6 separate regions of the Homo sapiens genome follow, and all the other regions are linked to region 4. The links come from fine-mapping of genetic effects on gene expression. A gene starts in region 4. Each other region holds a variant in brackets. All regions are shown on one strand. Distances are between the middles of the regions. Region 1 overlaps CUX1 (cut like homeobox 1). Region 2 overlaps CUX1 (cut like homeobox 1). Region 3 overlaps CUX1 (cut like homeobox 1). Region 4 holds the start of CUX1 (cut like homeobox 1). Region 5 has its middle 88 kb from the start of CUX1. Region 6 has its middle 25 kb from the start of CUX1.

What was found. PIP is the estimated chance that this variant, and not a neighbour inherited with it, causes the effect.
Region 1: its variant is the best candidate, but not a certain one, in a credible set for the expression of CUX1 in tibial nerve (GTEx, PIP 0.88).
Region 2: its variant is the best candidate, but not a certain one, in a credible set for the expression of CUX1 in whole blood (INTERVAL, PIP 0.88).
Region 3: its variant is the best candidate, but not a certain one, in a credible set for the expression of CUX1 in fibroblasts (GTEx, PIP 0.66).
Region 5: its variant is the best candidate, but not a certain one, in a credible set for the expression of CUX1 in whole blood (INTERVAL, PIP 0.59).
Region 6: its variant is the best candidate, but not a certain one, in a credible set for the expression of CUX1 in whole blood (INTERVAL, PIP 0.61).

The regions. Positions count from the first base shown.
Region 1 is chr7:102,118,091-102,122,177 of GRCh38, reverse strand. The region is part of intron 8 of CUX1 (cut like homeobox 1); the gene reads right to left. Among named protein-coding and RNA genes, the nearest start is that of SH2B2, 170 kb to the left of the region's middle. RefSeq lists an enhancer at 2,502-3,001. The variant AG/G (reference allele first, on the strand shown) is at 1,937.
Region 2 is chr7:102,054,311-102,058,397 of GRCh38, reverse strand. All of the region lies in intron 3 of CUX1 (cut like homeobox 1), which reads right to left. Among named protein-coding and RNA genes, the nearest start is that of SH2B2, 230 kb to the left of the region's middle. The variant C/A (reference allele first, on the strand shown) is at 2,089.
Region 3 is chr7:102,034,568-102,038,654 of GRCh38, reverse strand. The region is part of intron 3 of CUX1 (cut like homeobox 1); the gene reads right to left. Among named protein-coding and RNA genes, the nearest start is that of CUX1, 220 kb to the right of the region's middle. RefSeq lists a silencer at 1,784-1,986. The variant G/A (reference allele first, on the strand shown) is at 2,494.
Region 4 is chr7:101,815,799-101,819,885 of GRCh38, reverse strand. It overlaps CUX1 (cut like homeobox 1), which reads right to left and starts at 2,260. Exons shown (of 24, transcript NM_181552.4): 1 at 2,217-2,260. The coding sequence starts at 2,246. RefSeq lists silencers at 2,311-2,360, 2,411-2,480, 2,511-2,590, 2,661-2,980, 3,091-3,250 and 1 more and an enhancer at 3,076-4,004.
Region 5 is chr7:101,727,135-101,731,221 of GRCh38, reverse strand. No RefSeq gene overlaps it. Among named protein-coding and RNA genes, the nearest start is that of CUX1, 88 kb to the left of the region's middle. The variant C/T (reference allele first, on the strand shown) is at 1,598.
Region 6 is chr7:101,790,572-101,794,658 of GRCh38, reverse strand. No RefSeq gene overlaps it. Among named protein-coding and RNA genes, the nearest start is that of CUX1, 25 kb to the left of the region's middle. The variant T/A (reference allele first, on the strand shown) is at 2,402.

The DNA of each region.
Region 1 (4,087 bases), 300 kb before region 4:
AAAGGTACAGCAGACAGACTCTGTTTTCAGGATGCTTAAGTTGTCCCTTTCAAATTCAATCAGGGGATGCAATATTTGTCTAAATATGATGGTCAAGACAGCTGGGTGATTCTCAGGTTTACTCAACCGGGCTCTACCTGGCCCCAGTTCTGTGAGTCTTTCATGAGGAATTATTGTTCAAAAAGGGAAAAATCAATCTGCTATGGTAAATACAACGGGGGCTTGTGAGGCTGGGAAAGGCTGAACCCCCCAGGAACGCCTGCCTTCACCTGACTAGCCCTCACCTTTGCTGCTTGATTACAAAGCTGGCACCAGAAAGGGGCTTTGAAGACCGCCGTGGTCTCAAGCAAAAAGCACTGGAATTTGAGCCTAAAGGACCAGGTCCAGGGCCTGAATCTGCGTGTTCCTGGGACTGCTTCCTCATCCATGCAATGAGCACAATAAAAGCTGCCCCAGTGACTTCAGGAAAGGGCAAACAAGATAACACTCAGGAAATCATTGTGAAATAGTCCAGAACAGTATGTAAACAAAGTATCCATCCCAGCTGCTCACACCTGTCATCCCAGCACTTCAGGAGGCCAAGGCGGGCAGATCACTTGAGTCTGGGAGTTCGAGACCAGCCTGGCCAACATGGTGAAACCTCGTCTCTACTAAAAATACAAAAATTAGCTGGGTGTGGTGGCAGATGCCTGCAATTCCAGTTACTTGGGAGACTGAGGCAGGAGAATCGCTTGAACCCGGGAGGCGGAGGATGCCGTGAGCCAAGATCGTGCCACTGCACTCCAGCCTGGGCAATAGAGCGAGACTCAGTCTCCAAAAAAAAAAAAAACCAAAAAGCAAAAATTAGCCAGGCATGGTGGCACAAGCCTGTAATCCCAGCTCCTCCAGCAGCTGAGGCAGAAGAATCACTTGAACCCGGGAGGTGGAGGTTGCAGTGAGCCATGATCGCACCACTGCACTCCAGCCTGAATAACTAACAGAGACCCTATCTCAAAAAAATAAAAAATAAAATAAAAAGAAAGTATCCATCCCACCCACATTTGCCATGCAGACTTGTGTCTTGAACTGCTGGTATCCTCCTCCCCTCCTTTTAAAAATTATTATTATTATTTTTAGAGATGGGCTCTCGTTTTGTCACTCAGGCTGGAGTACAGTGATGCAATCATAGCTTACTACAGGCTGGAACTTCCAGGCTCAAGCGAACCTTCCAACTCAGCCTCCCAAGTAAATGGAACTAAAGGCACAACACCATGCCCAGATAATTTTTGTATTTTTTGGTAGAGGTGGGGTCTCACTATGTTGCCCAGGCTGGTCTCAAACTCTTGGGCTCAAGTGATCCTCCCACCTCAGTCTCCCAGAGTGCTGGGATGATAGGCGTGAGCCACCATGCCCAGCCTCCTCCCCTTTTCAAATTCTGTCTTATGTCCTCCTTTGGGATCTGGAGTTCTCTATCCCTCCAAAGAAGCGTAGAGGCTCCCCAGTGCTGAGTTAGCTACGGGAAAGTTTTCTGCTGTTTCAGAGCACGTTGTATTTTGTGATAAAGTACTGGTTATATACATGTTATAAAGAAAATACTCTAAAATTAACCTAAGTGAAGTTCCTCGTAAATGTCTCTTTTGTAACCGTACTATGTAAGTATGTGTATACACAATGTCGTTCTTTGAAAAAAGCATATAGGCTAGGAATACAACATGAGTAACCTTAAGAAATACGAATTTTACTGGCAGGAAAGGTTTGGGAGGTGCAAATTCTCCTAAGACTAACATTAGCTATAAAAAATGTAGTATTTCAGTGCGATTCAATATTTTCTTTCATCGAGGCTCAGTGCCTCGGCCCACGAGTGGGGAGGAATGCAAGAAGCTGACTGTGTGTATTGCAGCTGGAACTCCTTTTCCAATCCAGATTCTTGGGGACAGGGCATAGGATCGTGGACTTC[AG/G]CAAAAATGGGAATTCCTGCATTTTTGCCCAGAACACTAGCCGCTTGGCTGGGAGGGCGACATTCCTGCTGGAGGGTGCAGTAGCAACCCAAACCCAAGATCAAGTAAGTGAACAGCTGCAGGAGACGGATGCAGGAACTTGGGGCAGTGAGGGATGCCCAGGCCTCTCTCTGGGCTGCCTACTGCTGCGTGATTCCAGGGATCTGCCACCTCCACGGCCATCCATCCCAAGGAATTGTTTAGATGTTAAAATCCACAGCACGTTCCTTTGCTAGAGTCTCCAAGGTTAAGGCTATTAGGGTGGTAAATCTCCATTTGCTAAGAGAAGCGGGAAGATCCGTACACAGGGTGACCATCTGAGAAGGAGCTATGTTTTTAACTAAAGAAAAAAGAATGTCAGGCGTAGTGGCTCATGCCTGTAATCCCAGCACTTTGAGAGGCTAAGACGGGAGGATCACCTGAGGCCAGGAGTTTGAGACCACTCTGGGCAACACAGTGAGACCCTGACTCTAAAAAAATTTCAAAAAAGAAAAAAAGGGCAGAAATAATTCATTTATTTAACCCAGAAATGGTTATAATCGGAAACCTTGCAATCCTCTTACACAACAACTGTTTTGGCAAAGCCCCCATGTTCCAACAAATATTAAACTGTGCTTGCCATTTGTCTAAGGAATCTTGCATTAATAAACATGAAGAAGAACACTTTTACCTCCCACTCTCAACGACAGGACAAAACAAAGACCAGCTGTATTCATCAATGGGCCCTTGTTCTGCACATAAAGGCTAATTACATTTTGCTTCAAGCCTACACATGGAAAACTTTACTGCCGTTGTCTGCCACAGTCAGCCCGTGCTGTCCCAGCTGACGCATGGCGATGACTGCTCACGATAAACCGGGGTCTCGGAGCAGCCTCAGTACCACAGACCTGCGGGCTTCTCTCCAAAACGGGAGAGGGATGGGTACCCTGTGACATCTCCCCACGACAGACAGACAATGTGGGCCCAGTCCGTCGTGGTGATGCGGTGAAAGTCAATTTCCTCCAAGGCCGTTAATTTCAGAAACGCATACCACGCCCTGCTCTGAGCTTGCTGGGAATAGCTTCTATCTCTCGACAGCTTAGCCTCAGACTCTCACCATGCCAGGTGCTATACACACACATCCCATTCCTGCCTCTTCAAAACCACCTAGCATGCTGGGTGCAGTGGCTCACGCCTGTAATCCCAGCACTTTGGGAGGCTGAGGTGGGCGAATCATGAGGTCAGGAGATCAAGACCATCCTGGCTAACATGGTGAAACCCCGTCTCTACTAAAAATACAAAAATTAGCTGGATGTGGTGGCGCACGCCTGTAATCCCAGCTACTTGGTAGGCTGAGGCAGGAGAATCGCTTGAACCCAGGAGGTGGAGGTTGTAGTGAGCCAAGATCGTGCCACTGCACTCCAGCCTAGACGACAGAGCAAGATTCCATCTCAAAACAAAACAACAACAACAACAACAACAAAAACCACCCAGTGACTTGACTTCCGGTATGCCCATTGTACAGGTCAGAAAGGGAGGTGGACAGCTCATAGCTCATTCAGGGTCACGCAGAGAGCTCGTAGTGGACCCTAGTGAATCAATCCCAAGTCAGTCTTTCTCCAAAACCCATCTTCCTTCATGCCTCTCCAATTCCCGTCAACAAATATTTAAGAATCCCTTTTTTTTTAGACAGGGTCTTGCTCTGTCACCCAGGTCGCAGTGCAGTGGTATAATTAGGCTCACTGCAGCCTCGACCTCCTGGGCTCAAGCGATCCTCCCACTTCAGACTCATAAGTATCCAGGACTACAGTTAGGAGCTACCATGCCAGGATAATTTTTGTATTTTTTGTAGAGACAGGCTTTTGCCATGTTGCCCAGGCTGGTCTTGAACTCCTGGGCTCAAGTGAGCCGCCCGCCTCAGGCTCCCAAAGTGCTGGGATTACAGGTGTGAGCCACCGCGCCTGGCCCTAAGAATCCCTCCTTCAGAAGAGGGAAAATAAATTGTTTTTGAAATGCTGTAAGACCATATGTGAAAAGATTTGCCCCAAGGGGCTTATATTCACAAACATGAATGAAAACGTGTCTGGTCTAATAAAATACATGTAGGTTGGACTTGAAGCAGACGGAATAGT
Region 2 (4,087 bases), 240 kb before region 4:
GGAGGCTGAGGCATGAGAATCGCTTGAACCCTGGAGGTGGAGGTTGCAGTGAGCCGAGATTGTGCCACTGTACTCCAGCCTGAGTGACGGAGACTGTCTCAAAAATAGAACAAAAAAGGCAAATATGACAAAAAGAGCAAATATTGCAATGAAGCAAGTCACATAAATTTTTTGATTTTCCAGTGAATATAAAAGTTATGTTTGTATCATAGTCTATTAAGTATGTAATAGCTCTATGTCTCAAAAATGTACATATCTTAATTAAAAAATGCTTTATTGCCAAAATATGCTAACGATTATCTGAGCTTTCAGGGAGTTGTAATCTTTTTGCTGGTGGAGAGTCTTGCCTTGGTGTTGGATGGCTGCTAGACTGATCAGGGTTGTGGTTACTGAAGCTTGGGGTGACTGTGGCAATTTGTTAAGGCAACAATGAAATTGGCTAGCTTGATTGACTCTTTCGTTAACACAAGATTTCTGTGTATCATGCATTGCTGTTTGATAGATTTTTACCCACAGTAGAACTTCTTAAAAAATAGGAGTCAATCCTCTCAAACCCAGTCACTGCTTTATCAACTCAGTTTATGGAATATTCTAAATCCTTTGTTGTCATTTCAACAATATTCACAGCATCTTCACCAAGAGTAGTTTCCATCTCAAGAAACCACTTTCTTTGCTCATCATAAGAAGCAACCCCTCATCCATTCAAGTTTGATCATGAGGTTGCAGCAATTCAGTCACATCTTCAGGCTCCATTTCTAATTCTAGTTCTCTTGCTATTTCCCCCGCATCTGCAGTTCCTTCCTCCACTGAAGCCTTGAACCCCTCAAAGTCATCCATGAGGGTTGGAATCCATTTCTTCCAAACTCCTGTTCATGTTGCTATTTCAACCCCCTCCCATGAATCACAAATGTTCTTCATGGAATCTAAAATGGTGACTCCTTTCCAGAAGGAAAGGATTTCTATTTAATTTGCCTAGATCTATCAGAGGAATCACCATCTATGGCAGCTATAGCCTTACAAAATGTATTTCTTAAAAAATAAGACTTGAGTGTCAGAATTACTCCCTGATCCATGTGCTGTAGAATGCAGGTTGTGTTAGCAGGCATGGAAACAACATTCATCTTGTACATCTCCACCAGAGCTCTTGTTGACCAGGTGCACTGTCAATGAGCAGTCATATTTTGAAAAGAACCTTTCGGCTAGGCGCGGTGGCTCATGCCTGTAATCCCAGCACTTTGGGAGGCTGCGGCGGGCGGATCACGAGGTCAGGAGATCGAGACCATCCTGGCTAACACAGTGAAACTCCATCTCTAATAAAAATACAAAAAATTAGCCAGGCGTGGTAGCACACACCTGTAATCCCAGCTACTCGGGAGGCTGAGGCAGGAGAATCACTTGAACCCAGGAGGCAGAGGTTGCAGTGAGCCGAGATCGCACCACTAGACTCCAGCCTGGGTGACAGAGCGAGACTCTGTCTCAAAAAAAAAAAACCAGAAAACAAAAAACAAAAAACAAAAAATCTTTTTATCAGCCGAGTGTGGTGGCTCATGCCTGTAATCCCAGTACTTTGGGAGGCTGAGGCAGGCGGATCACGAGGTCAGGAGTTCAAGACTGGCCTGGCCAACATAGTGAAACCCCATCTCTTCTAAAAATACAAAAAGTAGCCGAGCATGGTGGTGGGAGCCTGTAATCCCAGCTACTCAGGAGGCTAAGGCAGAAGAATCACTTGAATTTGGGAAGCAGAGGTTGCAGTGTGCTGAAGTCATGCCATTGCACTTCAGCCTGGGTGACAAGAGCAAGACTGTCTCAGAAAAGAAAAGAACCTTTTTTTATTCTGGGCAGTAGGTCTCAACAGTGTGCTTAAAATATTCAGTAAAACATGCTATAAACAGATGCTGTGATCTAGGCTTTATGATTCCATTTCTAGTGCACAGGCAGAGTAGGTGTAGCTTAATTCTGAAGGCCCTAGGATTTTTCCGAATGGTAAATGAGCAATGGCTTCAACTTCAAGTCACCAGCTGCATTATCCCCTAACGAGAGTCGGCCTGCATTTGGAAGCTTTAAAGACAAGACACTGACTTCTCTTTA[C/A]CTATGCAAGTCCTAGATTATATCTTCTTCCAAGAGAAGGTTATTTTACCTACATTGAAAATCTGTTGTGTAGCGCCATCATCTTCGTTGATTATCTTAGCTAGATCTCCTGGATAACTTGCTGCAGCTTCCACCAAAGCATTTGCTGCTTTACTTTGCACTTTTGTATTATGGAGATAAATTCTTTCCTTAAACATCATGAATCAACCTCCGCTAGCTTCCAACTTTTATTCGGTAGCTTCCCCACCTCTGTCAGCCTTCATAGAATTGAAGAGTCAGGGCTTTGGCTTGAGACAATTAAGACCCAATTAAGAGAATTAGACTTTGGCTTAAGAGAATGTTGTGGCTGGTTTGATCGTCTATGCAGATCACCAAAATTTTCTCCCTATCAGAAATAAGGCTTTCTTATCATTCATGTGTTCACTGGAGCAGCACTTTTCATATCCTTGATGAACTTTTCCTTTGCACTAATGACTGGGCTAACTGGTGCAAGAAGTCCAGCTTTTAACCTACCTCAGCTTTCAACACGCCTTTCTCACTGAGCTTAATCATTTCTAGCTTTTGACTTAAAGTGAAAGACATGTGACTGTTCCTTTCACTTAATAGGCCATTGCAGGATTATTAATTTGCCTAATTTCAATATTGTTGTGTCTCAAGAAATAGGGAAACCCAAAGACAGGAAGAGATGGGAAACAGCTGGTTGGTGGAGTAGTCAGAACACACACAATATTTATCAATTAAGTCTGCCATCTTATATGGGGCACAGTTTGTGGTGTCCCCAAACAATTATGATAGTAATATCAAAGCTCCCTGACTGCAGATCACCATATCAGATATAATAATAGTGAATAATTGGAAATATTGTGGGAATTACCAAAGTGTGACAAAGAGAAAGGAAGTGAGCACCTGCAGTTGGAAAAATAATGCTGACACACTTGTTTGACTCAGGGTTGCTACAGACTTCCATTTTTGAAGAAACACACTATCTTCAAAGCATAAAAAAGTGGAGCTCAATGCAACAAAGTATCCCTGTAAAAAAACATTTGTCTTTCTACATGTTTGCAATAAATGATCTGAAAGTGAAAGTAAAAAAAAAAAATCCATTTATAATAGCATCACAAAAAGTATAAAATACTTACGAATAAATTTGGCAAAAGAAATACAAAACTTGTGCTCTAAAAACCACAAAACACTGCTGAAAGACACTAAACTAAATGGAAAGATGGCCAATGCTTATGGATTGGAAGACTTAATATTTTTAAGATGGCAATAGTCACGAAGTTGATTTACACATTCAAGGTAATGCCTATCAAAATTCCAGCTGGCTTTTTTTTTTTTGGAGACAGGGTCTCACTCTGTCACTCTGGTTGGAGTGCACTGTCACAACCTCAGCTCACTGCAACCTCCAATTCCCAGGCTGAAGTGATCCTCCTGCCACAGCCTCCGGAGTAACTGAGACTACAGGAACGCGCCACCATGCTTGGCTAATCTTTAACTTTTTTCTTGTAGAGATGAGATCTCATTATATTGTCCAGGCTGGTCTTGAATTATTAGGTTCAAGTGATCCTCCCGTCTTGGCCTCCCAAAGTGTTAGAATCACAGACAAGAGCCCCTGTGCCTAGACCCAGCTGGCTTCTTTGCAGAAATTGACAAGTTGATTCTAAGATTCATATGAAAATGCAATGACCCCAAATAACCAAAATAATTTTGAAAAAGGAAACAAGGTTGGAGGAGTCACACTTCCCAATTTCAATACTAAATACAAAACTACATTGACCTGAACTGGTAGGGGCATAAGGATAAACACACAGATCAATACAGCCCAGAAAGGAACCCTCATATTATGATCAACTGATTTTTGACAAGAGTGACATGACAATTCAAGGGTAAAAGAACAGTGTTTCAACAAATGTTGCTGGGACGACCAGATATCCACATGCAAAAGAGCAAAGTTTGATCCCTACCTCACACCATATGCAAAAATTAACTCAAAATAAAT
Region 3 (4,087 bases), 220 kb before region 4:
GTATATATTTAGGAGTGAAACTGCCGCGTCAAGGTACAGGTGAGTCTTTATCACCAGATGCCAAATTGGCTTTCAAAAAGTTTAAATCAACTTATGCTCCTAACTTGACTTTTTAATTTTAGCCAACTTGGTCAGGAGGAATAACTTGCAGATGAGTTATTTTAATCTGCATATCCCTGGTTATTATGCAACCTAGACATCTTTTCATATAGCTACTGACCATTCCAATGTTCTGACAATTATGCTCATGACTTGTACTCATTTCCTTACTGGGTTTCTCCCCCCATTGACATGCGAGCATTTTGAATATCTTGTGAACATTGTTAATTACAGGTGTGACAACTACCTCTTCCAGATTTGTAAATCATGGCCAAGGTTACCCCACATACAACGGTGGGATGCACAGCCCTAGACAGTATGCTTCACATTCTGGATGTCTGAATCTATCACGGTAAACACTGAGGTAAGTATGAATCTTTATTATGGCAAGTTTCCAACAGGTGATGTGAAAAGTATTGAGAACGGCAAACCTTTTTTCTAGTTCACATGAACATACCATGGAGCTAGCAGTGTACTGGCCTTATCTTTCTGCTTTTTTTTTTTTTGAGACAGAGTCTCACTCTGTCGCCCAGGCTGGACTGCAATGCTTTCAGCTCACTGCAGCCTCCACCTCCCAGGTTCAAGCAACTCTCGTGCCTCAGTCTCCCGAGTAGCTGAGACTACAGGCATGTGCCACCATGCCCAGCTAAGTTTTGTATTTTCAGCAGAGATAGGGTTTCACCATGTTGCCCAGACTGGTCTCAAACTCCTGACATCAAGTGATCCGCCTGCCTCAGCCTCCCAAAGTGCTGAGATTACAGGCATGAGCCACCACACCCGGCCATGTTTCCACTTTCTTTAGGGTATCTTTCCATGAAAAAAGCTCCTATTTAAAAATTTTAAGGTAGTTTACTGCAACAATCTCTTTTATGGTTTTCTGTTTAAGAAATTCTACCCAGCCCAGGGCCGGGCGTGGTGGCTCACACCTGTAATCCCAGCATTTTGGGAAGCCGAGGTGGGTGGATCACATGAGGTTGGGAGTTCGAGACCAGCCTGACCAACACAGAGAAACCCTGTCTCTACTAAAAATACAAAATTAGCTGGGCGTGGTGGCGCATGCTTGTAATCCCAGCTACTCTGGAGGCTGAGGCAGGAGAATCACTTGAACCCGGGAGGCAGAGGTTGTGGTGAGCCAAGATCGTGCCATTGCATTCCAGCCTGGGCAACAAGAACAAAACTCCGTCTCAAAAAAAAAAAAAAAGAAAAGAAAAGAAAGAAATTCTACCCAGCCCAAAGTCATCATCTTTTATATTTTATTCTATAAAGTTTAAAGCTTTGATCTAAGACTCTCCTTGTAATTTGTGTTTCCACACGGTGTAAGGTAGGGCTCCAACTCTAGTTAATTGTTTGCCTGTCTGTTTGAGACAGGATCTTGCTCTGTCAGCCAGGCTGTAGTGCAGTGGCACGCGATCAACAGCTCACTGAAGTCTCCAACTTGTGGGCTCAAGCAATCATCCCACCTCAGCCTTCCAAGTGGCTGGGACTACAGGCGTGTGCCATCACACCCAGCTAATTTTTGTAAGTTTTTGTACAGACAGGGTTTCACCATGTTGCCCAGGTTAGTCTCTAACACGAGGGCTCAAGGGAACTGCTTGCTTCAGCCTCCCAAAGTGCTGGGATTACAGATAGCAGCCAGTGCACTCGGTCTCAACTTCGTTTAATCTATAAGGATTTGCCAATCGTCAGAGGACCATGAAAAGTCCCCCCTTTCCTCACTGATCCATACCATCTTTGCAATTTATTCAGCTTCTATATATATGCATAGGCCAGATTCCGGTGTTTTTTTTTTTTTTTGTTTGTTTGCTTGTTTTTTTGAGATGGAGTCTCACTCTGTGGGCCAGGCTGGACTGCAGTGGCACAATCTCGGCTCACTGCTACCTCTGCTTCCCGGGTTCAAGCAATTCTCCTGCCTCAGCCTTTCAAGTAGCTGGGACTACAGGAGCACGTGACCACACCAGGCTGATTTTTGTATTTTTAGTAGAGACGAAGTTTCACCATATTGGTCAGGCTGGTGTATGGAACTCCTGACCTCAAGTGATCCTCCTGCCTTGGCCTCCCAAAGTGCTGGGATTACGGGTAAGAGCCAACGCGCTCGGCCAGATTCTGATTTCTTTATTGTGTTCCTTTGGTTTATTTATCTCATTCTCTGCCAACTACTGCAGCTTTAATAATCTGGTAGGGCAATTCCTCTAACTTGGAGTGGTTCAGTATTATCTTCACTATTATTTACCATTTGTTCTTGCATATGTATAAAAATTCTGGAATCAGCTTTTCAAAAGTTTCATTAAGATTCTTGCTGGGGCCGGGCTCGGTGGCTCATGACTGTAATCCCAGCACTTTGGGAGGCAGAGGCAGTCTGATCGCCTGAGGTCAGGAGTTTGAGACCAGCCTGGC[G/A]AAACCGTCTTTACTAAAAACACAAAAATTAGCTGGGTGTGGTGGCAGGCGCCTGTAATCCCAGCTACTTGGGATTACACAAATGTAATATGTGAACCTGATTGGACCTCAGCTGCAGGGAGGGCCGTTACAAAAGAAATCTTAGGGATAACCAGAAAAATTTGATTTTAGATCAAATAGGAGATAACCTTGAATCCGGGAGGTGGAGGTTGCAGTGAGCTGAAATGGTGCCACTGTATTCCAGCCTGGGTGACAGAGCGAGACTCTGTCTCAAAACAAAAAAAATTTTGTTGGGATTTTTACTGGAACTACAATGACTGATTCTGTGATCAATCTGGAGAAAAGTGATCGCTTCAATAGTAGTGGAAATTTCTCTCCTTGTATACTTTCTCTCTCTCCATTTAACTCTCCTTTAATATCCTTCAATATAAATGTTACATCTTTCTCTAGAAAGATTTCCCTTGTATTGTTACATTCATTTCTAGCTATAGTTTTTTTTTTTTTTTTTTGGCTGGCTATCTCCAGTAGTATCCTTTTTAAAAATGACTTTTTAAGTTTGCTGCTGATACAGGGGTATATAATTACTTTTGTATATTGATTTTGTATCTAGTAACCTGGTTAAATAATTGAGGCTCACTTGAAAAATGACAGTTTGATTTCTTCTGTTGCAATACTTATACTGTAGGCTGAAAATATTATAGTCAAAAATGTATTTAATAAACTAACCTGGCAAACATCATAGCTTAGCTTAGCCTACTTTAAATATATTCAGAAGACTTACATTAGCTTATAGTTGGGGAAAATTATCCAAGACAAAGCCTATTTTATCATCAGGTATTCACCAGCTCATGTAATTTATTGAATACTGTACTGAAACTGACAAACGGCATGGTTGTATGGGTACTCAAAGTACAGTTTCTTTGCATCATCCTAAAGTTGCACCATCGTAAGTCAAGAGCTATCTGTACTTTATTTCTTTTTGTCTTCTCTGCTAGCTAAGATTTGCAGTACAGTGTTAATTAAAGTAGCAATAGTAGGTATTCTTGTCTTGTTCCTGGTTTTCTGGGAATTTTTTTTTTTTTTTTTTTTACCACCACTGGGTCTGATGATTAATGTATGTTTCTGATAAATACCTTTTACCACATTAAAGAAGTTTCCCTCTATTCCTAAGATGTTTCCCTCTATTCCTAGTTTGTTAGTAGGGTTTTTTGTTTGTTTGTTTGTTTTTGAGATGGAATCTTGATCTGTTGCCCAGGCTAGAGTGCGGTGGCGCGATCTCGGCTCACTGTAACCTCTGCCTCCTGGGTTCAAGTGATTCTCCTGCTTCAGCCTCCTGCATAGCTAGGTGTACAGGCCTGCACCCACCACACCCAGCTAATTTTTTGTTTTTGTATTTTTTTTTTTTTTTTTGAGACGGAGTCTCTCTCTGTCACCAGGCTGGAGTGCAGTGGCACGATCCCGGCTCACTGCAACCTCTGACTCACTGGTTCAAGTGATTCTCCTGCCTCAGCCTTCTGAGTAGCTAGGATTACGGGCATATGCCACCACGTCCAGCTAATTTTTGTATTTTTAGTAGAGCTGGGGTTTCACCATG
Region 4 (4,087 bases):
TTGGCTAACTACCGACAGAAGATACACGAAGCCGAGGATGTAGTCAAAGGGCTCTCTGTGGACTCAACTGTACCAGGAGTTGTTGCATTAACTCACCACTTGCACCTTTAAGGAAAAAAAGAGTTTCACATAGGAAAAAACTTAAATCAACTGCCAATGACCCCTTCCCACATCCAACCTCAAAGACACCCATATTAAAAGAACCAAGAAAACAAAAGCAGGAGCAGCAGTGGTGTAATTTCTTGAACTGCTCTTTTATAAAGGGTACTAGATGGGACATTTTAATTAAAATAATATACTTATTATGGCAAACAGTACTGGACAGCCAGTAACATACACACTTCCACAACAGGGGGAAAAAAAGCCATCAGAAAATGGACTTTCAGCAAAACTGAAATTGTTTTTTGATTCTGAAAAAGAAGGCAACTTTTCAAGTTTACTTTTGCAGAAGCTGCTTAAAGGGGAAGGCTGGTCACCATGTGGGAATAATGTCCCAAAGGGAAGGCAGTCATTGGCGGGCCCCGTCCCAAAGAGTTCAAAGCTCCACTAACATACAGAGTGCCATGAGCTTTGTCTTAGAAAGTGTCCTCCTTTCAAATATGTATTTAAAAGACAAATTTATACAACAGTGCTTTTCTTATTTAAAAAGAAAAGAAAACCTGGTTTTTACAAGTCTGAGATAGGATAAAAAACTTGTCCAACTAGTCTTAGCAATACCAAAGCACTGAAACTTCCATACCACAAGCCTTTGGGACTAAAAAGGAAACGGAATAAAACACAATCTTCAGAAATTCTCTTCCTGAGCACACACTCCTGTGCCAAGGCAGCAGCTTCAAGACCCAGGAAGCCGAGGGACAAGAACCCAGTGAGCCAGGGTTGCAGAACTGCGGAACGGCCCAACCTCACCTGGACCCGCTGACGTCTCCAACCTGGATTTCTCTCTGCAAAGACCGATCAGCCTCTTTACCCCCAGGTGGCAACCCAATCTCAGTATAAAGAGGTCTGGAAAAATGAGAAAAATCTGGAACTAATGAATTCTCTCCCAAACTCGTTCTATTGACTCACTGACTATCGGTGGGAATTAACCAGACACCAACTCCAAAGGCCTCCTCACCGCCCAGAGAAAGAACCAGATTGGCCTGAGACTTGAACTTTGACATTCCGTATTCGACTAAAGTTTGCAAACCCATAGGAAATCATCTAAGGCCAAATCGTTAGCAACCACCAAAAGCAAAGGAGTAAAGAGGAATGAAGTTCAAATAAGGGACTTTGTTTTGGGGTTTGGTTTTGATTTCTTCTTAATATCCACATAAAGTGCAAGTAAACTGACATGGAAACTTTCGATGGAACCCTGGAGCCCTGATCCCCTGAAGAAGTAGCTAATATGGGGGACAGGAAGGTTTAGAGTTCTTAAAATCTAGTAACTCTAGAAACCAAATCCATTTTCCAGGCAATTTTGCCAGGATGCTTTAAAAAAGACACTTCATTGATATTAAGCTAGGATGTCACATTTAGGAAGACAAGAGAGAAAAATAATAATAATGTTTGTCCTTAAAACTCCACAACGGGTTTTACAGTAAGCACAGGAATTAAATTATGGTAAAAGGGAGCTATTTTTACTAAAACAGGGTAGACCAATTTATCAAAAATGCCATTCGGCTGTGTTCATTACATCCAGGAATCTAATTTACACAATAGACACTTTGGAGTAATCTATTTTAGTCAATAAATACTTAAACTCCTTTAAGTTTTAATCTTATCGGAAATACATATTTCGCATAGTCTTCTTCCTAGTTAAGCGAGAAATTTCAGGAAATTTCATAACGACTATGACTCGGCTTTATCGTTCTTAGTAGGCAAGAGCAGAAAACAAGCATATACAATTAAAGTTGTCAGATTCCATTTAAATATGTTTTAATCCAACCCGCTTCGTTTGATACAAGCCTGCATCTCGAGCTTTGCTCCCAAAGGTATTGCGGTAGGTCACTGTCACCAGTCCTCCAGGTTAGGAAAGTTCAGCCAAGTTTATCTTCACGCACACCTTAGCAGTTGGGAGTAGCTGCAGTTCCCCAGGGGCCCTGAGGAACCCTCCTATCCCCTCCCAGAGCACCAGGCCGCCCTAGAGCATTCTAAGCCGCGGGACCCGGGCACCCCCCGACATCCCCGGTTCCCTCCGCGCCTGCAACCTCGGGACTTCTGGCCCACACGCCGCTCACCTTCAACCTGGCTCCGGCTACGCACAACATCCACCTGGCAGAGTCCCGGGGCTGTCCCGGCGCCGCGGGCGCCGAGCTGGCACGTGCGGGGCGGACCCTAAGGGTGCGCCGCTCCTCCGGGCGGGGGGTGGCAGGCAGGCACTCGCCCCTTGGGCACGGCGGCGACTCGGGCGCGGGCCGGGGAGCCCCGGCACGGTCCCCCCGCGGCGCCGGGGACTCCGCGCGCGGACCACCGCCCGGCATGCCACGGTCCCAACGGGCCCCCGGGGCTCTGCTTTCGAGAACCCGGCCCGAGAAGGCATCTCCGAGCGCACCCGCCGCGCGCTCCATGGCGGGCCCTGCAGAGAGGGCAGAAGCCCCGAGGGGACGCAAGGAAGGGACCCGGCGCCGCAGGTCACCGGGGGCCGCCGGAGCCCCCAGGCGCGCGGCGATCGCGGCTCGGACCGGCGGCGGGGAGGCAGCGTACACTGCCCGGGCACCCGGGGGAACAGCTTGGGGCCTGCCTAGGGGAAAGTTGCAGCCTCCTCCTCCCGCGCCCGCACCCGGCGGTCCGGGACACCGGGACCCAGCGACACTGCGCGCGGGGCACCCCCGCCGCCCCTCGCCAAGTTTCCCCAAAGAGCCCCCGCGGGGGTCCGCCACGGAGGAACAGGTCCGCGTCACCGACACAGGCACACAAAAGAGCGCGGCGGCCGCGAGGTGCGCGGGTGGCCCCGGGGCGCTCCCCGGGACGTAAACAAACCCGGGGGTCCGCGCCGGGAGCCACACGCGGGGTGCCGGAGCGGCGGCGCGGCCCGGGCCGGTGACAGCCGGGGGCGGCGGCCGGGGCCGGCCGGGGGTAGCGAGCGCGGGCGCCTGCCCGGCCACCCGCCCGCCTGGCCGGAGCCGGGCCGCGCCGCCGCCGCCGCCGCCGGTGGCCGCTCTGACCCTCCCCCGAGCCGGCGGCACCACAGCGCCACCAGCCCCAGCTCCGCCGCGCCGGCGGCAGTGGCGGCGGCTCCTCCTGGAGAGGCAGGCGCTTCACCCCCCGCAGCAACTCCCCACAAACTTTCCCCGGGAATACGGCGGGCCGGGGGCGCGGGGCGAGCGGGCGGGCGGGCGCCACCGCCGGGCCGCGGCCCCCTCCCGGCGCCCGCCGCCGCCCGCCCCCCGCCGCCCGCTCCCCGCTCCCCGCTCGCGCGCGCACCCCGCGGGCCGCCGGGGCCGCCCCCTCCCCGGTCCCGCGGCGGCAACGGCGGCGGCGGCGCTGGCGGCGGCGGCGGCGCGGGGCCCGGGGGGGCGCCCGGGGTGGGGGCAGACACCGGGGGCAGTGGTGGCGGCGGCGGCTCCCGGCGCCATCTTGGGCTGATCGATGAATTGAACAAAGAGGATCAATTTCCGATCAAGCGAGTGATCAATGGGGGCCGGGGAGCGGGAGGGACTCGGCCCCGACTCGGCCCCGCGGTGCCCGGCACCCCCCTCCTCCCCGCCGCCGCGGGCCCCCCGGCGGCTGGGCCAGCCCGGGGCCCCCGGCGGAGGCCGCGACCGCCCGCAGCCCCCACCCCCGGGCGCGAGGCCGAGCGCGGAGGAGCCTGACCTGCAGCTGCTGTAAATCAAAGCGCTTCCAATATTGAAACATCGATCCCACATTGGCCGCCATCTTGAGACATATTGAGACGGAGTGAGCGGCTGATAGAGAGGGGGCTGGAGTTCAGGAGCCGCCAGGAGGCAGCAGGCGGGCGGCGCCAAAACCCGGCCTGGAGCCGGCCGCCGCCGCCGCCACCGAGGACGCGGACTCCTCCTCACGGCACCGCCGCAGCCATGGCGAGCCCGAGCCGGAGCCGGAGTCGCAGCCCCAGGGCGCGGCGGCCGCGGCCCGGCCTCGCGCGCGC
Region 5 (4,087 bases), 89 kb after region 4:
GGCCAGCCTGGAGTGCAGTGGTGCAGTCATAGCTCACTGCAGCCTGGAACTCCTGGGCTCAGGTGATCCTCCTGCCTCAGTCTCCCAAGTAGCTAGGATGACAGGTGCACGCCAGCATGAGTGGCTAATTTTTAAATTTTTTGTAGAGATGGAGTCTCACTATGTTGCCCAGGCTGGTATCAAACTCCTGGCCTCAAGTGATCATCTCAGCCTCCCAAAGTGCTGGGATTATAGGCGTGAGCCATCATGCCCGGCCTACGTGGGCTTTTTGCATATCCACTGGGTGCTGGGCTCCATGGCAGCTACAGGGGGTGTCATCATGCACGGCCTGGAGGGAGGGACAGACATTAATTCAGCAATCACAGCAACGTGGACACACTGGCCAGCACCAGGGAAGAGACAGGAGAGAGTCCAGGGTCAACAGGGCTCAGTGGCCTTGGCAGGGATGGCCATTCCTTGAAAGATGGGTTTCTGTAGGAATAAGTGACCTAATTAGCTGGATGCAAAGATAACAGGCTGAAGACGTTACCCAGAGGCTCACAGGTAAGAGGGGACAGGAGGACTATAAAGAGCTAAAATAGGCCAGGCATGGTGGCTCATGCCTGTAATCCCAGCACTTTGAGAGGCCAAGGCGGGTGGATCACGAGGTCAGGAGTTTGAGACCAGCCTGGCCAATGTGGTGAAACTCCGTCTCTACTAAAAATACAAAAATTAGCCGGGCATGGTGGCGTGCACCTGTAATCCTAGCTACTCAGGAGGCTGAGGCAGGAGAATCACTTGAACCCGGGAGGCGGAGGTTGCAGTGAGCTGAGATCACACCACGGCACTCCAGCCTGGGCAACAGAGCAAGACTCCATCTCAAACAAACAAAAAACCAAAGAGCTAAAATAAGACCCATGTATCTGGAGTGAAGGGGCCATGGGGAGGATGAGCTGTGGGGGCTCCCAGTAGGGGTAGGACTCCCAGGGGTCAAACCAAGTTGGGCCCAAGAGCTCAGTATTTATCCCCAGAAGGCACTGAAGGGTTTTAAGCTGAAAGACTTGGCCCTGATTGAAGTTTTGTGTTTTACAACATAACGTAAATGCCGAGGCCAAAGCCAGGCTGGGTGCGGCGGCTCACACCTATAATCCCAAGGCTTTGGGAGGCCAAGGTGGGAGAATCGCTGGAGGCCAGGAGTTCGAGACCAGCCTGGACAACATAGACCCCCTACATTTACAAAACATTTAAAACATTAGCTGGGCATGGTGGCACATGCCTGTCATCCCAGGTACCCTGGAGGCTGAGGTGGGAGGATCACTTGAGCCAGGAGTTGAAAGCTGCATTGAGCCATGATGGCGCCACTGCACCCCAGCCTGGGTAACACAGTGAGAGAGACGCTGTCTCTAAAATAAACAAAACAAATCCCAAAGCCAGAGCACTGGGAGTCACAGAGCTGACTGGGGGTGAGGTGGGGGGTGTCAGACTCTCAGGCTCCAAGTGGAAGAGCTGAGAGGGCTGAGAGGCCTGTGGGAAGGTGTGGCCCAGGGCTGTGTTTGGTTAGTCCAGCAGGATCCTTGGGCACCACCCCCAGTGTGCACCAGGGTGTGGCCCAGCCCTC[C/T]GGCATGAAGGCGCCACGCACTGTGAGCTATTCCTTCTACATGCACGGCGACCGCAGCCTTTGGTCTTGATAAGTAGATTATGTTGATTCACGGCCTTGGACTTCAAATTACAAAACCACGGTCTGGCTTGGGATAGTTCACCAGAGAGCGGAGAGATAGCTGGTCACAAGGCAGCCATGCGTCATCCCTGCCTCGATCTCAGGGAACTCTGTCCAGTGGGCTCTGCGTTTGCCTAGCATGAGAGAGGGCCATTTTTCTGCTTGGCCCCAGCCGCATTTAAGAAGCAGCTGAGAGCAGTGGCTAACGTCTGTAATCCCAGCACTTTGGGAGGCCAAGGCAGGCAGATCACTTGAGGTCAGGAGTTGAAGACCAGCATGACCAACATGGTAAAACCCCATCTCTATAAAAATACAAAAATTAGCCGGGCATGATGGCAGGTGCCTGTAATCCCAACTACTCAGGAAGCTGAGGCAGGAGAATCACTTGAACCCGGGAGGTGGAGATTGCAGTGAGATGAGATTGCGCCACTGCACTCCAGCCTGGGTGACAGAGGGAGACCCCGTGTCAAAGGAAAAAAAAAAAAGAAGCAACTGTAAGCAGGAACTCAGGCAGGCTGGGTGGGGACGGCAAGGCCTCCTATTGCCAAGGAGCTTGAGGAAGATTGTCGCTGGGGTTTTTTGTTTTCTCCTGTTTAAGTAATAGCTTTATTGAGATATAATTCACATACCATGCAATTCATCCATTAAAAATATACAATTCAATGGCTTCTAATGTATCCATTAGTGCAATTTCTACAATCAATTTTATTTTTATTATAATTTTAATTTTTTTTTTAATTTTTTTTTTGAGACAGGGTCTCGCTCTGTCACCCAGGCTGGAGTGCACTGGTGGCATCTCGGCTCACTGCAACCTCCTCCTCCCGAGTTCAAGCGATTCTCCTGCCTCAGCCTCCCGAGTAGCTGGGATTACAGGCACCTGCCATCACGCCCGGCTAATTTTTGTATTTTTAGTAGAGATAGGGTTTCGCTATGTTGCCCAGGCTTGTCTTGAACTCCTGACCTCAAGCGATCTGCCCACCTCAGCCTCCCAAAGTGCTGGGATTACAGGAGACAGAAGCTTCTTTCTCTGAGTTCCAGGATCCAGTGCAGGTGAGGAGCCCCACACGCCTGAACAGTAATTACAGCACAATGCAATCAACGTGTAATTAACTGTGTTACACGGCATGTTGCCCACTCTCACTGCTTTGCAAGTCCCGGGAGCGGGGAGATTGAGGGAACAGAGAAACCTACTGACTAATGCTAATCCCACCCAGGGTGCAGAGCCTGGAGCCTACAATTATCTTACCTCCAGCTGCTCCCTGAATCCTGTGGCAGGATGGTGGAGTATAGGGTCTACACCGTAGCTCTGAGCACGTGGGCTTTAAAGCCTCCTCCTAAATGCAGAATTCTGGACAGATGCGCGATTATGATGCTTGTCAGAGCGACAGGACTTACAATGGGATTTTTGGTGGGTCACAAGTGTTTCACATAAAAGGCCTTTCGAATCCCAGTGCTTTGGGAGGCAGAGGCAGAAGGATCGTTTGAAGCCAGGAGTTCGAGACCAGCCTGGGCAACATAGTGAAACCCCATCTCCACAACAACAACAACAAAATAGCTGGCCAGACCCTGTCTCAAAAAATAAAAAATAAAAAAGCCTTTCATAGGTGTGGCCCAAGGACCCACAAATTGCTCACTTTCAGTTTGAAACCATCACGTCCGCTGACACGTGTAGGATAGAAATCCAGCTAATGCTCCCCCTTGTTTCTGCCTCAGTGTCAGAGGCACCCAGGGCCTCTGAGCTGCGACTACAGTCCCATCCCCTAACTTGCTTTTTCCCTTTCCTCCTCCCAGGGCCAGAGGCTGATTGAACTTGCACCTCAGCCCCTGTCATTCACCTTCCATGAGTTTCCAGTCTGATGGAGGAGGCAGACACTAAACCGGATTATTTTTTTTAATTTAATTTAATTTTTATTTTTTAGAGACAGGGCCTCATTGTGTCACCCAGGCTGGAGTGCAGTGGTGCAATCATAGCTCACTGCAGCCTCTAACTCCTGGTCTCAAGCAATCCTCCCACCTCAGCCTCCCGAGTAGCTGGGACCACTCGCTCGTGCCACCATGGCTGGCTAATTTTTTTTTTTTTTTAGAGGTGGGATCTTGCTATGCTGCCCAGGCTGGTCTCAAACTCCTGGTCTCAAGTGATCCTCCTGCCCTAGTCTCCCAAAGTGCTGGAATTACAGGCGTAAGCCACCATGCCTGGTCTGAACCCAATGATTACGGTGCAGTGTGAGTGCTACATCTTGGAGAGGTATTGCTGGCTGACCGTCCCAGCTGCCTTTTCTGCTCATGAAACCCCTCCAAGACTGGCTTTCCTGTGACCTCTCTGGCAAAGCTTTCTCTGGCTCCTCCAAGGAGAGGCTACTGCCCTCATTAGTCCCTGCCAGGGCTGGTTTG
Region 6 (4,087 bases), 25 kb after region 4:
GATAAATTTTTTTTTTTTTAATAGAGATGAGGTCTCACTATGTTGCCTGGGCTTGTTTCAAACTCCTGGCCTCAAGTGATCTGCGGCCTCCCAGAGCACTAGGATTATGGGTGTGAGCCACCGCTCCCAACCTGCTTCTGCTTTTCATTTCCCTTCATTCCCTCCCCCTTGGGTTCTATACTCTCAAGTTCACAGGATCTAGGGACCAAGTCACCCAGTGGCCATTCTCCAGGGCCACCTGGGTGAGCCTCCTGAAATGCTTACCTCTGGCATCTCTCCTTTTTTCCCTTTTTTGAAGACAGTCTCCCTCTGTTGCCCAGGCTGGAGTGCAGTGGTGCAATCTCAACTCACTGCAACCTCCGCCTCCCAGGTTCGAGCGATTCTCCGGCCTCAGCCTCCCGAGTAGCTGGGATTACAGGTGTGCACCACCATACCCAGCTAATTTTTGTATTTTTAGTAGAGACAGGGTCTTGCCATGTTGGCCAGGCTGGTCTCAAACTCCTGGCCTCATGTGATCCACCTGACTCAGCCTCCCAGAGTGGTGGGATTATAGGCGTGAGCCACTGTGCCCCGCCTGGCCTCTCTCCGGCAAGTCTTTCACGCTCCTCGCTATTTTCCCTGGAGTTAAGCTCTAAGCCCCTACTTCCAGTCTCAGCCTCTATCCTTCCATCAGTGCTCCAGCCCTCCAGAATCCTCCCTCCTCCCTGCTCCCCAGACACCATGTACACCAATAGGGCCCCACAGTCCTTTAATGGCCAGCGTCCACCATGACTGGTCAGGGCCCCTCCCTTCTGATTGGACAGTTGTTAAAGCGTTTTCTAACATCCACCCGCATCTGAACGTCCCAGGCACCAGAGTCATCACTGATTCCTTTCTTTGCCCGGGGTTTAATCACTCCATGCAAGGGACGGGCATGTCTTCTGTCCCACTTTGTAAGGGTGCCCAACTCTCCAGGCCAAGGCTATCCTTTGGCCCTCAGAGCACGTCACATGGATTTCATCTCAGAATCGGATGTTGCCTGCAGTCTGTTGGTCTCACTGTGTTTCAGTTATTTTCCAATTTCTTCCACTGACCTGAGCTCCACCTCAGGGCGGAGACCTTGTCATATTTCTCTACAGGCCTGGCACATAGTAGGCATCTAATAAATGTCTTTTTGTTTGTTTGTTTTGAGGCGGACTCTCGCTCTTTCGCCCAAGCTGGAGTGCAGTGGCGCGATCTAGGCTCACTACAACCTCCACCTCCCGGGTTCAAGCTATTCTCTTGTGTCAGCCTCCCGAGTAGCTGGGATCACAGGTACGCGCCACCACACCCAGCTAATTTTTTGTAATTTTAGTAGAGACGGGGTTTCGTCAGGTTGGCCAGGCTGGTCTCGAACTCCTGACCTCAGGTGACCCACCCGCCTCAGCCTCCCAAAATGCCGGGATTACAGCTGTGAGCCACCACGCCCCACCACGTGTAATAAATGTCTGATGAGTGCAGGTAGGAAAAAAGGAGCCGGGCTCCTTCCTCAGTGAAGAGTTAAAGGTCAAGGGTCATGAGGTCTAATCTATCCCTCTGTACAGTTTATTTTCAGGGTCTCCTTTTGTATTTAAGAATGGGTGAGCAGCTGTGGACGGTGGCTCACGCCTGTAATCCCAGCACTTTAGGAGGCTGAGGTGGGAGGATTGCTTGAGCCCAGGAGTTTGAGACCAGCCTGAGCAACATAGCAAGACACCGTCTCTACAAAAAATAAAAAAATTAGCCAGGTGTGGTGGTGTGGGCTTGTAGTCCCTGGTACTTGGGAGGCTGAGGTTGCAATCCTTAAGGAGAATCGCTAGAGCCTGGGAGGTCAAGGTTGCAGTCAGCTTAAATCACACCACTGCACTCCAGCCTCAGTGACAGAGCAAGACCCTGTCTCAAAAAAAAAAAAAAGGGAAAAGAAAAAAATAATGGGAAAACCATACCAGCCACCTCCTACCTTGCTGGAAGGTGACCAGCCTGAGGTCTGGTTTTCCACAATTTCCTGAAAACTTCCCAAACATCTGGCGCCAGTGTGAAAAGAGCCGGGTGAGGCCTGGAGCCAGAATTAGGCCATCAGTGTTCCCTGAACCTGATAAAATCCTAACCGTCCCAGAAGCCAAGCTGGACTGGGGCGTGAGATCATCACATGCCTGAGATACTTGAATCAACTTGTTCACAGCTTTCCTGGGTCATGTTTTTCATAATTCATGATTCACAGGAGACTTTTAACAACAAAAACATTCAGATTAAATTTTTATATGAGATGTTTTTCCTTTCTTCTACAAGCATTATCAACCATTTCGATCACAAAAAAAAAAAAACCCTCTGCCCACCTCCATAATTATTTAAGGATTTTTTTTTTAACTTGTTTTTCTACTTAATTTGATTCAAAGATAGGAAC[T/A]CTGGGTATCGAAAGGTGGCATTAAATTGTGGTTTCTCAGGTGACTCAGACAATTTGATGATCCAATTTGTTTTCCTTTCTTTCTTTTTTTTCCTTTTTTTTTTTGAGTCAGGGTTTCGCTCTGTCGCCCAGGCTGGAGTGCAGTGGTGTGATCACCAGTCACTGCAGCCTGGAACTCCTGGGCTCCAGCGATCCCCCCATCTCAGCCTCCCAAGTAGCTGGGACTACAGGCATTTGCCACCACACTTGGCTAATTTTTAAATTTTTTGTAGAGATAGGATTTCACTATATTGCCCAGGCTGGTCTTGAACTCCTGGGCTCAAGCAATCCTCCCACCTTGGCCTCCCAAAGTACTGGGATTACAGGGGTGAGCTACCATGCCTGGCGCTTTTTTTTTTTATTAAATAGTACATGATGCCCTGTCCCTCAAATGAAAACAAATAGGGCAGATTGCTTGAGCCCAGGAGTTTGAGACCAGCCTGGGTAACATGGCGAAACCCTGTCTCTACAAAAAAATACAAAAATTAGCTGGGCATGGTAGCACGTGCGTGTAATCCCAGCTACTCGGGAGGCTGAAGTGGGAGGATCACTTGAGTGCAGAACATCAAGTTTACAGTGAGCCGTGATCATGCCACTGCACTCCAGCCTGGGTGACAGAACAAGATCCTGTCTCAAAAAAAAAAAAAAAAAGAAAAAGAAAGAAAAAGAAAAGAAAACCACACCAGAAAATCTTTTAGCAATACCCTCAAGTCAGTTTTCTCTTTTTTCTTTTTTTTCTGCTGAAAGAATACTCAAAGAAACAGCCCAGCTCTTTTTATTTCTCATGGATACTTTTCAGGGACCTATGTGTGTAACCATTAAAAGACATATTGGAACCATGCTGAAAATTCCATCTCTTTGAATAAGGACTGACTTCACCCAGTCCCCAAGAAGTAACAAGACGGCTGATTACTGTCATTATTTTTGCCATTTGAAAACTCTCCACAGATGTTTCTTTCTCTACGGTCAGAGAGGCTGCTGCTTCAAGAGTAAGACTTGTGCCATGTTGCCTTCAAACAGGAGAAGGGGAGGGGAAAACGATTTAAAAACAAGAGGGAGCTGGGTGCTGTGGCTCATACCTGTAATCCCAGAGCTTTGGGAGGCCAAGGCAGGAGGACTGCTTGAGACAAGGAGTTCGAGTCCGGCCTGGGCAACATAGTGAGATCCCATCTCTATGACTGATAATTAAAAAAAACAAAACAAAACATGTTTTAATTAAAAAAAGAAAAATCAACAAAGAGTATTTTTATGATGGTCTTTTGGAAACAAGTTTGCTTTCTCTTGTTTTCTCTGTGCTATAAGGCCAAGGGCACAGGTCCCTCCTCCGAGGTGAGGCTCCTCTCTCTGACCAGGTGGGGAGTAGGTCTGGCTGCACAGTGGAGGGTGGAGCATTGCCCGTCATTCCTTCAGGACTGACACCCTCAGTGCCCCGCTGCTGGGAATGCTGGTGGCTAACAGCTTTTAGCTGAGTCCTTTTGCAAATATAGCCTCCCCAAAGACAGCCACCTTGGTCAAGTCCATGGCCCTCCCCGAAGGCAGCCAACATCTATGGCTTCTCAGTGTAGGGGTTATAAAGGCCCAGTCCCCATGCCTCAGGGTGGGACAACCCTGATGGGTGAACGCAGTTCCGGGGACCTCACAGGATTT